2 separate regions of the Homo sapiens genome follow, and region 1 is linked to region 2. The links come from fine-mapping of genetic effects on gene expression. A gene starts in region 2. The other region holds a variant in brackets. All regions are shown on one strand. Distances are between the middles of the regions.

Region 1 (8,964 bases), 140 kb before region 2:
AACGTTTATAGGCTTTTTTGTTTTTTTTGATAGAGTCTCACTCTGTTGCGCATCATGGAGTGCTGTGGCACAGTCATGGCTTACTGCAGCCTCAAATTCGTGGGCTCAAGCAGTCCTCTTCAGTCTCCCAAGTAGCTGGGACTACAGGCATGCACCATCACACGTAACTAATTTTTCTTTTCTTTTATAGAGACAGGGTCTTACTATGTTCCCCAGGCTGGTTTTGAACTCCTGGGCTCAAGTGATCCTCCTGCTTCTACCTCCCAAAGTGCTGGGATTACAGGCATGAGCCATCATGCCTGGCTGAATATTATATGTTTATATACAACTTAGTTACTGAGTAATATATTTTTAAAATATTTGATTACTTTTGTGTCACACTGTATAATGTTACTGCCAAAAAAGACTAAATCTTCCCCTTATTATGAGATAGTCGCTCTGAATGACGTTTTTTGGCATTTTTTAAAACTTTATTGTAAAATAAAACAGAGACAAAGGCAGTAAATAATTATATAGCTTAATGAGTTGAAAATAAAGTGAACACACTTGAGACCATCACTCAGGTTAAGTAACAGAACTTTGTCATCTACCCCAAAGCTCGCTTCAGCCTCCCAAAGTGGTGGGATTACAGGCGCGAGCCACTACACCCAACCATGTCCTTTCATTTCTTTATAATTTTATGACCCAACTATTTAGGCACCTGTATAATCTTGTCTGTTTAAAACAATTTGATGTCTTTTGAGTATCTTTTAGTTTATAGGTTTCTCCTCATCCCTTTCTTTTCCTTATAATTTGTTTATTGAATAATCTATCGTTTGGATTTGTAGAGTTTCCCTCAGTCTGGATTTTATTGTATTTGTTGATGTTTTGTAGAGACAGGGTCTTGCTGTGTTGCCCAGGCTGGTCTGGAACTCCTGGGGTTAAAGTGATGCTCCTGCCTCAGCCTCCGAAAGTGCTGGGATTACAGATATAAGCCACTCTGCCAGCCTGGATTTTGCTGATTGTATACTAATGGTGCATCTTTCTCTTTGTATTTTCTGCAAATTGGTAGCTGGATTTGGAGGCTTAATTAGACTTACGTTAGATCCCTTTGGCCAGACCCTTAGGTGTTGTATTCTTACGTTATGAGGTACATAAATATCTAGTTGTTTCTCTTTCTGTGATGTTAGCAGTTATTGACACTTAGTAGCTAGATCTATCAATTCATTGGGGATTATGGTGATATTTTAATCATTTATTTTTCACTTACTAGTTGGATTACTTTTATAAAGAGCCACTTTCTGCTACCTACGTTTGGTTGCCGAATGGCACCTGAACTACATTTTAAGATAAGCGTATTATCTTAAAATAATATACTTTTATGTTGGGAATCCCTAGAAAGACTTAATTTTAAACAGAACCTCTTGGTGCTGAAAAGGAGCGTGATAAATCTGGGGAAATTAATTGATACATTTATTTGATGAATACTTATGGAGAAAGTATTCTGAGCCAAGCATAACGCTAGCTATTGTGGTACAATGGTGAATGGATCAATGTAGTGGGGGATTATGATAATAGCTCTGAAAGAGATGTTTCAGGGGACCTAACTTAAATCAGTGGCTCAACAAAGACTTCTCTAAGAAAGTGTCCTTAACTTGAATAAGGAAGAATGAGTAGAAATTAGTCAGGTAAAGAGAGAAAGGAAGTTTTCAGTCAGAGAGGACATTGTATGAGTGGTCCTTTGCTGAGAAAAAGCTTGACTTACGGAAAGGTGAGGAAAAAAGGTCATACAGTTATAACATTGTGAGCTAGAGGGAGGGGATTAAGAGGCAGATAGGATCCTAATCAAGCGGTAGGGCCTTATAATAGTGTTAAATATCTTGAGATCTATTTTAGGTATAATACAGAAAATTTCGCCCATGGTCTTATGCTAGGTTCTGAGCCTATCTAATATACATCTCTTCAAGACAGATATAGCTGTTTAAGATGACTAATCTGGATAGATTGGAAAGTATAGTCATTTTTATTTGATCCCAGCTTTACATAACTATCCAAGATACCATGTATACAAATGATATTTATTTATTTATTTAGAGACAGAGTCTTGCTGTGTTGCCCAGGCTGGAGTGCAGTGGCGTGATCTCAGCTCACTGTAACCTCCGCCTCCTGGGTTCAAGCGATTCTCCTGCCTCAGCCTCCTGAGTAGCTGCAGTTACAGGCATGCACCACCGTGCTTGGCTAATTTTTTATTTTTAGTAGAGATGGAGTTTCACCATGTTGGCCAGGGTGGTCTCGAACTCCTGACTTCACATGATCCACCCACCTTGGCCTCCCAAAGTACTGGGATTACAGGCGTGAGCCACCGCGCCTGGCCACACATGATAATTAGATAGAGAAAGAGAGAGAATTCTAAAAGCTAATCTGGTTATGTTCACAGGTGTCTGGGGAAGCCAATGAAACTCAGATTGCAGAAGCACTGAAGCGTTACAGTGAACGGGCATTCTTTGTTCGGGAAGCTCTATTTCATCTTTTTAGTCTGACTCATGTGATGGAAAAAACAAAGCCAGAAATTTTAAAGGTAAGAATAAGAAACTGGATATGAAATTTTTGAAATGATCTCCCTGGGCAGATGATTTTTTGAAGAAAATTGGTGAAAATTTGCATTTAGTCTTTTTTTATTATTTATAATGTGATTGATGACGTGTGATTTCAATCATTAGCTATAAACGAGAGAGAAGATAGTTGTACAATGTTATTGAAGCTTCACAATAATCTCATTAAGCAATATAAATGTCTTGTAGTACATATTTATCTACCTAAAACCAGTGACTACCATGATATTTTATCACCAGCTACTGTAGAAAATGAAAGTATATGACTGGAATCAGGACACTGTATTGTATATTAACCCTATATTGCTTCCCAAATAGATTTTTTAGAAATACAATATTGCACCAAATATGGTAGTTCATGCCTGTAATCCTAGCACTTCAGGAGCTGAGACAGATGGGTAGCTTGAGCCCAGGAGTTCGAGACCAGCCTGAGCAAGATGGCAAAACCCCATTCCTACAAAAAGTATTAAAAAAATAAAAAAAAGAGAGAAGTAAAGACAAAGCAAATATTGAAATTCTATAAGGTACTTTTCCATGCTGTTTAGAACCTACTATGCATTCTTAACTGATTTACATTACTCCGCAATTAAGTTTTGTTTTGTTTTTAAGACATAGGGTCTTACTGTGTTCCCCAGGCAAGAGTGCAGTGGCTGTTCACAGGCCTCAAACTCCTGGGCTCAAGCAATCCTGTCTTAACCTCCCAAGTAGCTAGGACTACAGGTGTGTACATCACAGCACCTAGCTATTTTAACCAAAACAGCTTTTGAAGGGCAAGAAAGGAGATTTCTTAATTTTATTGAATGCTTTGGGCAACATTTATCAAAATGTGGTCCTTTGGGCCAGGACGCAGTGGCTCACACCTGTAATAACTTTGGGAGGCTGAGGCAGGTGGGTCACTTGGGGCCAGGAGTTCTAGACCAGCCTGGCCAACATGGCGAAACCCCATCTCTACTAAAAATACAAAAAATTAGCCAAATGTGGTGGTGCACGCCAGTAATCCCAGCTACTCAGGAGGCTGAGGCATGAGGAACCTGGGAGGCCGAGTTTACAGTGAGCCGAGATCGTGCCACTGCACTCCAGCATGAGCAACAGAGCAAGACTCTCTCAAAACAACAACAACAACAACAACCAAAGTTGTCCTTTAACCACTAGAAGTCTAGGATGTTGCTTATTTAAAAAGCTTATTTGTGGCCAGGCATGGTGGCTCACACCTGTAATCCCAGTACTTTGGGAAGCCAAGGCAGGCAGATCACTTGAGCTCAGGAGTTCAAGACCAGCCTGGGCAACATGGCAAAACCCCATCTCTACAAAAATTACAAAAATTAGCCAGCTGTGGTGGCACGCACCTGTAGTCCCAGCTACATGGGACACTGAGGCGGGAGAATTGCTCAAGCCAGGGAGGCAGAGGTTACAGCGAGCTGAGATCATGCTACCACACTCCAACCTGGGTGACAGGAGTGAAAACTTGTCTTAAAAGAGAAAAAAAAAAGATATTTGTAAACCCCACTCCCAAAAATTTAGATTCAGTAGGGCTAGATGAGGCACAGGAATCTACGTTTTAATAAGCCCCCAAGATAATTCCAAGGTAATTCTTACGCACGTTCAATTTTGAAAACCA[A/G]TGAGCTTAGGACTCTATTATATTTGGCACCTCATTTAGTGGGCACAATTCCAAGAGATGGGTTTTATCTTCTGTTTTACAGATAATGAAATTGAGGTTCTGTGACGTTAAGTAATAATAAGTCAGTGGCAGAGCCACAACTTGATATCCTACATATCTTAAATTCTGAGAATGAGGCGCTTGGGTAGGAACCAGTAACATTTTAGTCCTTAGGATATTATCACCAACACCTGTCACTCCTTTTATATATATCAGAGGATGTTGGCACTTGGTATATGAATTGTCTTTTTTTTTTTGTTTTGATTACTGTGAACTGAGCAACAGAAGACTAGATCTCTAGTCTTGATCTGAAATATTCATTCAGACATTCAGAGAATGATTCAGAGATAAATGGAAGAATATAGGCTATTTATTTATTTATTTATTTGTTTATTTATTGAGGTAGCATCTCACTCTGTCACCCATGCTGGAGTGCAGTGGCATGATCATGGCTCACTGCAGCCTCGACCTCCCTCCTGGGCTCAAATGATCCCCCTTCCTCAGCCTCCAGAGTGGCTGGAACTACAAGCTAATAACACCATGCCTGGCTGAATTTTAAAATTTGTTATTATTATTATTGGTTTTTTTGTAGTGATGGAAACCCACTGTGTTGCCCAGGCTGGTCTCAAATTCCTGTGCTCAAGTGATTCTCCCGCTTTGGCCTCCCAAAGTGTTGGGATTATAGGAGTGAGCCACTTTTATTTTATTTTTTTAAAGATACAAGATCTAGCTGTATTGCCCAAGCTGGAGTGCAGTGGTGCACGATCATAGTTCACTGCAACTGCAACCTCAAACTCTTGAGCTCAGCAATCTTCTGCCTCAACCTCTCGAATGGCTGGGAGTATAGGTGTGTGCCATCACACCTGGCTAATTTTTCAAATTTTTAAAAATAAATTTATTTATTTATTTTTGAGACAGTGCCTCACTCTGTCACCCAGGCTGAAGTGCAGTAGTATGATCATAGCTCACTGTAACCTCAAACTCCAGGGCTCGAGCAATCCTCCTGCCTAAGCCTCCTGAGTAGCTAGGACTACAGGCCCATGCAACCACACCGGGCTAATTTTGTAGAGACGGGGGTCACACTATGTTACACAGGCTAATTTTAAAAAAATTTTTTGTAGAGGCAGGTTCTTGCTGTGTTGCCCAGGCTAGTCTCGAATTCCTGACCTCAAGTGATCCTCCTGCCTTGAGCTCCCAAAGTCCTGTAATTACAGGCATGAGCCACTGCACCTAGCCTAGGCAATTCCTTTTTTTTTTTTTGAGACTGAGTCTCACCCTATTGCCCAGGATGGTGTGCAGTGGTGCTATCTCAGCTCACTGCAACCTCTGCTTCCCATGTTCAAGCGATTCTTCTGCCTCAGCCTCCCGAGTAGCTGAGATTATAGGCACCTGCCACCACGCCCAGCTAATTTTTATATTTTTAGTAGAGACGAGGTTTCACCATGTTGGCCAGGCTGGTCTCGAACTCCTGATCTCAAGTGATCCACCTGCCTCGGCCTCCCAAAGTGCTGGGATTACAGGCATGAGCCACCATGCCTGGCCAAGGCAATTCTTATAGGGAATTTTGCTGCAAAGGGGAGCAAAGAAAAAAGATGGTAATCGTTTGAGGAAGTGAGATTAAAAGAGGGATGTTTTGATTTTTTTTAATAGGAAAAATATATCTTGTTTGTATCCTGATATGAATGATCCAGTACAGAATAAAAAATTGATATAGGAGTAGGAGGGGTGAACAGCTTCCTTTCAGTAGACAAGAAAATAATTATCTAACATATACATGAAGGGATTTGTTTTACAAAGGACCCCAAAAGATTCCTTATGGTAGCAGGCAGGAAGGTGACATGTATATGTACGTATGCTGGTAAGTAGGATACATGTGGTAATGAGAATCTGAAGTTCTTTTCTGGTTGCTTCAGTTTTCTTTCTTTCTTTTTTTTTTTTTTTTTCTCTTTTCCTTAGAGGCAGGGTCTCACTCTGTCCCCCAGGCAGAAGTGCAGTGGCACAACCATGGCTCACTACAGGCTCTGCCTCCCAGGGCTCAGGTGATCCTCCCACCTCAGCCTCCCAAGTAGATGGGACTATAGGCGTGTACTACCATGCCCAGCTTTATATATATATATATATACACACACACGTATATGTATACATACGTGTGTATATGTACATACACGTGTGTGTGTATGTACATACACGTGTGTGTATATGTACATACACGTGTGTGTATATACATCTATACATATATGTGTATATACATCTATACATATATGTATATATACACATACACACATATACACACACACACACATATATATATATAGAGAGAGAGAGAGATGGAGTTTCACCGTTGTCATCCAGGCTTGAGTGCAATGGTGTGCTCTTGGCTCACTGCAACCTCTGCCTCCTGGGTTAAAGCAGTTCTCCTGCTTCAGCCTCCCGAGTAGCTGGGATTACAGGCACGTGCCACCATGCCCAGCTACTTTCTGTATTTTTAGTAGAGATGGGGTTTCACCATGTTGGCCAGGCTGGTCTCAAACTCCTGACCTCAAGTGATCCACCTGCCTTGGCCTCCCAGAGTGCTGGGATTACAGGCATGAGCCACCATGCCTGGCCCCCAGTGAATTTTTGTATTGTTTTATACAGATGGGGTTTCACCATGTTGCCCAGGCTGGCAGTTTTCTTAGTGTAGTTGAAAGCAAGATCTTCAGCTGATAGTGAGGAATGGGAAGGATTCGTTGGGGGTTTGAGGGCAGAGGAAAAAGTGAGAAATAGTTGTCTAGGCCAGGGAAAGTGAATGGATTTTATTGCACTTTAACCTCAGCAGTGTTCTCAAGGAACTGAAGATTGAAATTTGAGAGTGGAGTGTGCTCTATTCAAGTCAGTGAGAATTTATTCACTGCCTTCCATATAACAGGCACCATAAGTAGGTCTTGGAAATACAAAGATGAGTGACCTGTGTGAAAAAGATTCATTAACTTTACAGAAAACCCCTAGATATGAATAGCTGAATACCTGCCTTGGTGAGGTAGACTGGAACTATTTGTGAGTAACTGCTATATCCTAGGCTCTTTGCACATGAGGATGAAAAAGAAAATTATGACATCTTTGAAATTACTATAGACCAACAAAATAATTCTGCTCTGTGAAGAGGGCTTGTATTTATAAGGTGAATTAAGAGGACTAATTTTTTTTTTCCAGCTTGTGGTTACTGGGATGAGAAACCACCCTATGAATTTGCCAGTGCAACTGGCTGCAAGCGCCTGTGTATTTAACTTAACCAAGCAGGATCTTGCTGCAGGGATGCCTGTCCGACTCCTGGCTGATGTGACCCATTTGCTGCTCAAAGCCATGGAACATTTTCCCAATCACCAGCAGGTAAGCTTATGTGAATTCCTTTTCAAATAGTCCTTGTAGTGTCTTCTACTCATCTCCTACAGTTCAGTTTAATAGACCAAGGCTGGAAATTCAAATGCCTTTGGAGGCTGTGGTATGACTGAGTGTAAGAAAACAGAGAAGTGGACACCAAAGGAGTATATTCCGTGCCTAAAAGCACCTAAATCCATATATTGGGGGACATAATACAAGCCATACAAAACTCATCTTCCTCCTAGATCTTGAGTTTGTGATCATTTCAGCAGATAGGCACAGAGGATCTGTTCTGGGCTAGGCACTATCAAATGCTGGGATACATAAATGATTAAGACATGTCTTTTCCATTTCTAGCAGTATGGTAGAAGATGTAACCTGTCTTATACTCAGGATGAATACTAAAAATGTTGCTTAATTTTTTTGTTTTTTAAACAGAGTCTTGCTCTGTTGCCAGGCCAGAGTGCAGTGGCGCGATCTCAACTCACTGCAACCTCCACTTCCCGGGTTCAAGTGATTCTCCTGCCTCAGCCTCCCAAGTAGCTGGGATTACAGGCGCGCACCACCACACCCAACTAATTTTTGTATTCTTAGTAGAGACAAGGTTTCAACATGTTGGTGAGGATAGTCTCCATCTCTTGTCTTTGTGATCCGCCCACCTTAACTTCTGAAAATGCTGGGATTACAGCCACCTCACCCGGCCCTTAACTTTTTTTTAGGTCATTTGAAATTGACCATTGAGTTGGCAAGTTAGTAAAAAATACTCAGAGGCTCAAAACCAAGTAAAAATGGCAAGCCACATTGGTGAGTAGATCATTGAAGCCAGCTTCCCTCATTGAGGGCAGTTGCCAAACTAGATGAAATTTAGGCTTTGATTTTCGTGGCCTCTGGAAGCCCGTCAGACAGAAGACTCCTAGCATAAACTATGACTTCCTCCCCAGAGATACATTCTTACAAAAAGGGAGCTATAAATAAGTCTGCCTATGTTAGAGAAACAACAAAAGAATAAGCCCAAAGAAAGTAGAAGGAAGGAATAACAAAGATGAAAGTAAAAATTAATAAAATAAAAAACATACCATTATTTTAGAGAGGATCAATAATTCCAAGAATTGGTTCTTTGAACATATTTAATAGTATTGAAAATTCACTGGCAAAGTTGATCAGGGAAAAATGAGAAAGGATGCATATAAAATAAATAAGGTTAGGAAATGGGGTGGGGGAAATGGGAAGTCACTGTAATGGTTATAGAGTTTCCTTCTGGGGTGATGGAAATGTTTGGGATGATGAAATTGTGATGGTTGCACAACTCTGTGACTCTACTAAAATCCATCAAATTGTACACTTTAAGTAGGTGAA
Region 2 (8,862 bases):
GCTGGTGTAAACTAGCTTGCTTTACCAGTTATACAAAAGCACAGCACATACAATTAGGCCCACAACATAATACTTGATAATGATAATAAAAGACTATGTTTTAGGTTTATATATTTACAATATTATTTTTACCATTATTTTAGAATATACTCCTACTTTTTATTTTTAATTTTTTTGAGACAGGGTCTTACTCTGTTGCCCAGGCTGGAGTACAGTAACACGATCATGGCTCACTCATGGGTTAAACACCTTTGGGCTCACTTGCAAATATCAGGAATCCTTGATATTGGACAGCCTTGACCTCCCCGGCTCAAGCCATCCTCCCACCTCAGCCTCCTGAGTAGCAGGGGCTACAGGTATGCACAACCATGCCTGGATAATTTTTGTATTTTTTTGTAGAGAAGGGGTTTCACTATGTTTCCCAGGCTGGTCTCAAACTCCTGGGCTCAAGCAATCTGCCTGCCTCACCCTCTCAACGTGCTGGGATTACAAGAGTGAGCCAGGTGAGCCACTGTACCTGGCCTGGGCCGTGTGTACTCCTACTTATTAAAAAAAAAAAAAAAAAGAAAAGAAAAAAGTTCAGTGTAACACAGCCTCAGGCAGGTCCTTCAGTAGGTATTCCCGATTGTTATCATAGGAGATGGCAGCTCCATGCACGTTATCGCCCCTGAAGACCTTCCAGTGGGACAAGATGTGGAGGTGGAAGACAGTGATAGGTCTAGGCTCGTGTGTGTGCTTGTGTCTTTGTTTTTAACAAAAAAAGTTTAAGAATTAAAATTTTTAAAAGCTTATAAAATAAGGATCTAAAGAAGAAAACATTTTTTGTACAGCCGTACAATGTGTTTGTGTTTTAAGCTGAGTGTTACTACAAAAGAGTCAAAAGTTGAAAAAATTAAAAAGTTTATAAAGTAAAAACAGAGTAAGCTAAGGTTAATTTATCATTGAAGAAAGAAACATTTGTAAAGCAAATTTAGTGTAGCCTAGGTGTACAGTGTTATAGAGTCTATAGTAGTGTACAGTAATGTCCTAGGCCAGGGGTCCCCAACCCCCGGGCTGTGGACCCATCCCAGTCTGTGGCCTGCTAGGAACTGGGCCACACAACAGGAGATGAGCAGCTTCATCTGTATTTACAGCAGCTCCCCATGGCTTGAATTACCACCTGAGTTCCACCTCCTATCAGATCAGTGGTGGCATTAGAATCTCATAGGAGTGCGAACCCTATTGTGAACTGTGCATGTGAGGAATCTAGGTTGTTGCGAGCTCCTTATGAGAATCTAATGCCTGATGATCTGAGGTGGAACAGTTTCATCCCCAAACCATCTGTCCGCCCGCAAGTCCATGGAAAAACTGTCTTTCATGAAAATAGTCCCTGGTGCCAAACCAGTCCCTGCTGTCCTAGGCCTTCACATTCACTCACCATTCACTCGCTGACTCACCCAGTGCAGCTTCCAGTCCTGCAAGCTCCATTTATGGTAACTGCCCAGTACAGGTGTACTATTTAAAAAATCTTTTAGACTGTATTTTTACTGTGCCTTTTCTATGTTCAGATACACATTTACCATTGTGTTACAGTTGCCTACAGTATTCAGCCCGGTACCATGCTGTCCAGGTTTGTATTCTAGGAGCAACAGGCTATACACCATGTAGCCTTGGTGTGCAGTAGGCTACCCCATCTAGGACTGTGTAGGTGCACTCTGTGATGCTCCCACAATGACCACAATCACCTAATGATGCATTTCTCAGAATGTAGCCCCGTTGTTAAGCAACACATGACTCTATGAGAAATAAAGCCGCTAAGAACAGTGAAGAATGGTTTACCACCCAACCTCAAGCTCAAAGGCAGCAGGTAAAATGTAACAGTGCTCTTGTGCCATCAGCCCCAGTGGAAGGCAGAACCTGCAGCTTCTAATATGAACATCAAATGACCCCAACTCATTCCCTGTGAGGGCTCCGTGTGTGATCTCATCCCCATGCCTCCTCTGCACTGTCATCTTGGTTTCTGTCTCTCCTTCTCTCACTGCCTTTTCCTGCCCTTTGAGCCCTCTGGCAGGGGCAGAGGCTTAATCTGCTGATCCTTGTCATTCTTTTTTGGATAAAATGATTCCCGATATTTGCAAGTGAGCCTAAAGGTCTTTAACCCATGATAATTTTGTGTTTACACATGTACAAGTCTGTATTTTGAGTCACTGAATTACTAGAAGAGCCAGTGATTACCTAATGGTTGAGAACACAGGCTTTGAAATCAGACCTGGTTCAAATAACTTAACCTTCTGTGCCTCAGTTTTTTAATCTGTAAAGTGGGGAGAATAATCTTGACTGTCTTAAGAGCTGTTGCCAGTTGGGTAGTGAACTAAGCATGAGATTGGGGGTATAAGGTTCAGCAATATTAACTGTTCAAGGAAATTCTCACCAAGTGGTGCAGTGGGACTCTAGGTGGCCTGTCCGTGTCCACTGAAGGTGGTAGATGCACACTTGGGAACAGTGGGCAACAGCAGGGAGCAAGGAACTGGATTTTATGGCAAAGCCCCGCTTCAAACTTGTTGTCAAGCCGGTAAAAAGGAAGCAATACTGCTGGGGAAGGGGCGGCAGGCGCCATGTCCGGCCACGAAGGTGGCAAGAAGCCACTGAAACAGCCCAAGAATGCAGGCCAAGGAGATGGACGAGGAAGATAAGGCTTTCAAGCAGAAACAAAAAGAGGAGCAGAAGAAACTCGAGGAGCTAAAATGGAAGGCCACGGGGAAGGGGCCCTTGGCCACAAGTGGAATTAAGAAATCTGGCAAAAAGTAAGCTGTTCCCTGTGCCTAAGGAGATGGTGACCCTTTATTTCATCAGTATTTAAACCTCTCTATTCCCTGCCATAACATCTTTTGCCACCTATGGCTGGAATTAAGTGTTGTCTTGGAGCTGTTGTACATTTAAGAATAAACTTTTGTTAAAAAAAAAAAAGAAGCAATACAACGAAATGTACAGTACAATGCCATCTGTGTATCAAATGCAGGAGACAGGGGATGAGATGCGGGGAGGAGACCCAAGGCAGGAGAAGCGCCTAGCCCTGATGGTTACCAGCAGAGGACTGAGGAGCGTTATCAGCACCACTGAATGCTCCAGAAGTTCAAACAACAACAACAACAAAAACGCAACACGCGATCAGAGGCGTTTTCTGCCAGTGACCCGCGAACTTTGCCCCCCACCCCTCGTCCCCGCTCCATACTATCCTTGATCTTGGCCAAAAGGCGGAGAAACAGCGAACTTTTCCCTGGAGCCAGAAGGACGCAAAGGTTCGCTAGCGGCCCAGGGCGGGCGCGCGGCTGGAGAGGCACCCTCCTCACTCTGCCCGCTGCCGCACTGGGCACTGGGACTGGCTCCGCTGCCTCCGCCCCCGAACCGGGCCAGGACCCTTGGCGGGGGAGGGGAACGCGCACTTAAACGCTCCTGGCCTGGGGGCCGCGGGGCCCAGTCCTACCCGTGCGGACCCCGCTCCCCCTTCCACACAGTCGGAAGACCCCAAAGGGCCTTTGAAGAGACCGAGGTTGCCAGAGGCCCCCCGCCCCCAGCTAGAGTCTGGAGCCACTAAGGCGGCCGCCCACCTCTCAGGCCTGGAGCGGTTTGGGGCGCCTAGAACTGGGAGGGAGGGACTGGGGATCGAATCCTTCAACGCACTGAGCGGCCCACCTGCCGGTCCCCCGCTGCCTCCGGCCTAGTCCCAGTCGCGTCATGCGCCGCCCCGGAACTGCACATTTACCTTGGTCCGGACCCGCCAGGGCGCGCACTTGGATCTCTGAGCCCCCGGCCGCCCCGTCGGAAGCGCAGCCGCGGGCCCGAAGGGGCCTCCAGGGGCGCAGGAGGCACAGAACGCGCAGCATCGGGGCGCAGGCTGGGAGTGAAGGTGCTTCTCCGGCCCTGCACCGTCTCGGCTCCCGCTGAGAGCTCGCAGTTCCGGCGTCGGGCGAAGCCTTCGCCAATTGCTCCACCTATGGGCCAAGCGTCTGTTGCCTCCTTCCGCACCTCCCGGGGACAGGGAGACTTGAGCGGAGGAGGTCGGGGGAAGCCCAGCTCCTCTGTGTGATTTGGTGTAACTCTGTCAACCTCCCAGCGTCAGTGTTTTAATCCTGTAAAATGGGGATAATAGTGACTACCCCGTGGTGGTGTGAAGATTAAATGGGGTGTGTGAACCTTGCTTGCACATATGCTCAATTTCATTTTTTAAATGAAATGACATTTAATGAGTCCCTTGAGCGTGTCTACACTTGCGAACCTCACTGCTTCACCTCCCATTTGCGCCTCACTTTTTTTTTTTTTTTTTTTTTTTGAGACGGAGTCTCGCTGTGTCGCCCAGGTTGGAGTGCTGTGCCTTGATCTTGGCTCACTGTAACCTCCGCCTCCGGGTTCAAGCGATTCTCCTGCCTCAACCTCCCAAGTAGCTGGGATTACAGGGACGCGCCACCACGCCCAACTAATTTTTTTTGTATTTTTAGTAGAGGCAGGGTTTCACCATGACGAAACCCTGTCTCTGTTAAACATTCAAAAAAATTAGCTGGGCGTGGTGGCGGGCGCCTGTAATCCCAGCTACTTGGGAGGCTGAGGCAGGAGAATCACTTGAACTCGGAAGGCACAGGTTCAGTGAGCTGAGATCGCGCCACTGCACTCCAGGCTGGGCAATGAGCGAAACTGCGTCCCAAAAAAAAAAATTATTCTCTTAAACACAGTATATACAAAGCACTCTCACATTGCTGATGTGAATGTCTTTAAATGAAAAGCAACTGGTAATTTATATCAAAATTATAAATGCACAAGCTCATTGCCCCAGAAATTCCAATTTTAGAAATTTAACCTACAGATAAATCCACACAGCTGTGAAATGACACGTGTTCATGGCTGTACATTGCAGCATTGTTTATAATAGCAAAAGACTGGAAGCACATGGTGCTGTCATGTGCTTCTGGTGAGGCCTCAGGAAGCTTACAATCATGGCTGAAGGTGACAGGGATCCAGCATGTCACATGGCGAGAATAGGAACAAGAAAATTAGGTGGGGAGGTCCCAGTTTATCGCCAAGGGGATGGTGCTAAACCATTCACAAGGGATCTGTCCCCATGATCCAGTCACCTCCCAACAGGGCCCACCTCCAACATTGGGAATCATATTTCAACGTGAGATTTGGAGGGATCCAACACCCAAACTATATCACAGTCTCAATATCCATCAATAGAGGGTTGGTTAAATAAATTATGGGGCTGTGTGTGGTGGCTCACCCTATTATTCCAACACTTTGGAAGGCCAAGGCAGGTAGGTCCCTGGAAGCCAGGAGTTTGAAACCAGCCTGGGAAATATAGCAAGCCCCTATCTCTACTTAAAAAAAAAAAAAAGGTACATCAATAATCTGAATACTATGCAGCTATAACAAAACACAGGAAACTGTTTATGCATTGATATGAAACAATCTTCAAAATCTATTGGTATATGAAACAAGTCAAAATGCAGAATAGTGTGTAAAGAAAGCTAAAATTTGGCCGGGTCTGGTGGCTCATGCTCATGAACCTAGCACTTTGGGAGGCCGAGACAGGAGGATTGCTTGAGGCCAGGAGTTCAAGACCAACCTAGCCAACATAGCAAAACCCCACCTCTATTGAAAGAAATAATAAAGAAAACAAAAATTTGTGTTAACAAGGGGGATAAGAGTATGCATGTGTATATTTGATTGTATTTACATAAAACATCTTTGGAAGGATAGGGAAGAAGAACCGAGAGGCTGGGAATAAGGGTAAGAGAGACAAGTTTTACGGTTTGACCTGTTATACGTTTTTGGACACAGGATGTTGTTGTTGCCCAGATTGGAGTGCAGTGGCAGTATCTTGGCTCACTGCAGCTTCTGCCTCCCGGGCTCAGGTGATCCTTCCACCTCACCCTCCTGAGTAGCTGGGACCACAGGTACATGCCACAACATTGGCTAATTTTTGTATTTCTTGTAGAGACGGGGTTTTGCCATGTTGCCAAGGTTGGTCTCGAACTCCTGAGCTCAGGCGATTTGTCCACCTTGGCCTTCCAAAGTGCTGGGATTACAGGTGTGAACCACCATGCCTGGCCCCTTTTATACTTTTTGAATCTTGATTTTTGTTTTAAGTATAACTTACTCAAAATAAATAATGAAAATGAAAACAAAGCACAATAACAAAAATTAAAAACATGCCTTAGCAAAAATAAAACTAATATATACACAAAATCAAAACATACAAACTAGCCAGGCCCGGTGGCTCATGCCTGTAATCCCAGCACTTTAGGAGGCTGAGGTGGGTGGGTCACCTGAGGTCAGGAGTTCAAGACCAGCCTGGCCAACATGGTGAAACCCTGTCTCTACTAAAAATACAAAAATTAGCCAGGCGTGGTTGTGGGCAGCTGTAATCCCAGCTACTCAGGAGGCTGAGGTGCAAGAATCGCTTGAACCCAGGAGGTGGAGGTTGTAGTGAGCTGAGATCACACCACTGCACTCCAACCTGGGCAACAGAGTGAGATTCTGTCTTAAAAAAAAAAAAGAAGCAAAAACAAAACATACAAACTATAATTGGGTATAAGATTAAAAGAAAAACCTTCCCTCCTCCATATTCCATGCATTTATTGTATTCTATTTTATTGAGACAGGGTCTCACTCTGTTGCCCACATTGGAGTACAGTGGTGCAGTCAGTTCACTACAACCTCAGACTCCTGGGCTCAGGGGATCCTCCCGTCTCAGCCTTCCGAGTAGCTGGGACTACAGGAGTGGGCCACCACACTTGGCTCATTGTTAAATTTTTTGTAGAGACAGAGGTCTCCCTATGTTGCCAGGCTGGTCTCAAACACCTGGCCTCAAGTGATCCTCCCACCTCAGCCTCCCAAAGTGCTGGGATTACAGGTGTGAGCCCCCATGCCTGGCATCCACCCATTTAAAAAGATTTTTCTTGTTTTTTCTTCTTTTTTTTTAGAGATAGGGAGCTATGTTGCCCAGGTTGGTCTTGAATTCTTGGGCTCAATCAATCCTCCCATTTTGGCCTCCCAAAGTGCTGGGATTACAGGCATGAGCCACTGTGCCTCGCTGCTTTTTGTCTTTTTGTATTAACAGAAAAGGTCTCACTATGCTGTCCAGGCTGGAGTGCAGTGGCTATTCACAGGCATAATCGTAGCTCACTGCAGCCTTGAACTCCTGGACTCAAGCAGCCTTTCTGCCTCAGCTCCTCAAGTAGATGGGATTACAGTCTCGTACCACCACACCCAGCTTAAAATGATATTTATTGTATTTTATCTGGCATTTCTGGGTGTTTTTTTTTGGTATACTTATTCATGCCACAAAGTAAGTGGTACTTATATAAGTGTACAGTGATTTTCCAGGTTCCTTTCTAACATAGCTTGCTTAAATTCACAGGTCGACTAATGTTTCATTTCATGTGCATGCTAAGTGAAGCTGGTTAGTGATGACCATAAGCAGGTGGAGAAGCTTTCAATATTTTACTTATTTTATCAGTACTCCTGATTTTATAAATGATGAGGCTCATTAACCCCATTCCTACTCAAATCTCCTGATAAACTTGGTTATAATAGGGCTTCATGGGGATCCAAACATTTTTAATAATGTTTTGAAGCATCTTGGTGTGGGACAAACAGCTCAGGCTACCCCAGAGCCCCACATCCAATGACTTAGAAAAGTCTGTGTTTTATAGTGGGAAAAGTTTGGATTATTTAGTCCTTCACATTGGAAAGGGAAGTGTTTTTTCTCAGTCTTTTCGGTATTAACAAATACCTTTTATATTACTATCTATCCCCTCTGCCCTCTATGGACTCTTATTTTGAAAGCAATATCCAGTGGACAGCCAGGATTTGTTACATAACAATTAATCTTGACCTTAGGACTTGTTGTTCTATTAGGTTGGTAACTTTGTCTGATCCACCAATCATATTGCTGTCTTGTCAGTCCATCAGTTTCAAGAAACAACTGTACATGTCAGTGCCCTGATTTGTGTTTGTTTTTCTTTTTTTTTTTTTTTTGTTTCGTTTTGGTTTTTTAGAGACGTGGTCTTGGTATGTTGCCCAGGCTGGAGTGCAGTGGCTATTCAGAGGTGTAATCATAGCACATTTGTAGCCTTGAATTCCCAGGCTCAAGTGATCTTTCTGCCGAAGCCTCCTGAGCAGATGGGAGGCGTGCATCACTGAGCGCAGCAATTTTACTAAGTTGGTCTAGTCCTAGCTCAGTAGTTCTTTACTTAGCACAGAGGGGGCTTCTTAGAATCTCCTAAACTTGATCTTAGCCAAATGGCCAAGAAGCAATCCTTAGAATCTTCTAGGAGAGCCTTTCTAAATGCTGATACTGCAAACCGAAAAGTATATGAAACGGATCTCAATTAATTTAGAAGTTAATTTTGCCAAGTTTAAGGACGTGCATCATCTTTGGAGACAGGTCCGTGCCTTTCTCCAAAGATGATTTTGAGGGCTTCAGTTTTTATAGGGGAAGGGGCAGATATTGGGGAAAGATGAATAAATTTTAAAAAGATGTGGGTAGATAAGAGGCAAACGGTTGCATTCTTCTGAGTCTTTGATCAACCTTCACATGTGAGGGGGGTAGAGAAATAGTCACTTATGCATTCATCTAGCTCAATGAATCTGCATTTTTACATAAGATAAAATAAACCGGGGAGCCGGGCGCGGTGGCTCACGCCTGTAATCCCAGCACTTTGGGAGGCCAAGGTGGGTAGATCACCTAAGGTCAGGAGTTCCAGACCAGCCTGGCCAACATGGCGAAACCCCATCTCTACTAAAAATACAAAAATTAGCGGGGCGTGGTGGCGCGCGCCTGTAATCCCAGATACTCGGGAGGCTGAGGCAGGAGGATTGCTTGAA

Alleles and levels. Positions count from the first base shown, and alleles are read on the strand shown. Sizes are in standard deviations (SD) of each study's normalised expression.
With allele G in place of A in region 1, the expression in transverse colon of the gene that starts at base 3,930 in region 2 is higher (small effect, 0.26 SD a copy in GTEx).

What was found. PIP is the estimated chance that this variant, and not a neighbour inherited with it, causes the effect.
Region 1: its variant is fine-mapped to the expression of ECHDC2 in transverse colon (GTEx, PIP above 0.99).

Annotation. Positions count from the first base shown.
Region 1 is chr1:52,777,437-52,786,400 of GRCh38, forward strand. ZYG11B (zyg-11 family member B, cell cycle regulator) reads left to right here. Exons shown (of 14, transcript NM_024646.3): 4 at 2,417-2,557; 5 at 7,441-7,617. Among named protein-coding and RNA genes, the nearest start is that of ZYG11B, 55 kb to the left of the region's middle. The variant A/G (reference allele first, on the strand shown) is at 4,210.
Region 2 is chr1:52,917,811-52,926,672 of GRCh38, forward strand. It overlaps ECHDC2 (enoyl-CoA hydratase domain containing 2), which reads right to left and starts at 3,930. Exons shown (of 10, transcript NM_001198961.2): 1 at 3,743-3,930. The coding sequence starts at 3,863. It also overlaps the pseudogene LOC112268226 and the pseudogene LOC100652967. RefSeq lists an enhancer at 3,633-4,315 and silencers at 3,650-3,828, 3,677-3,906.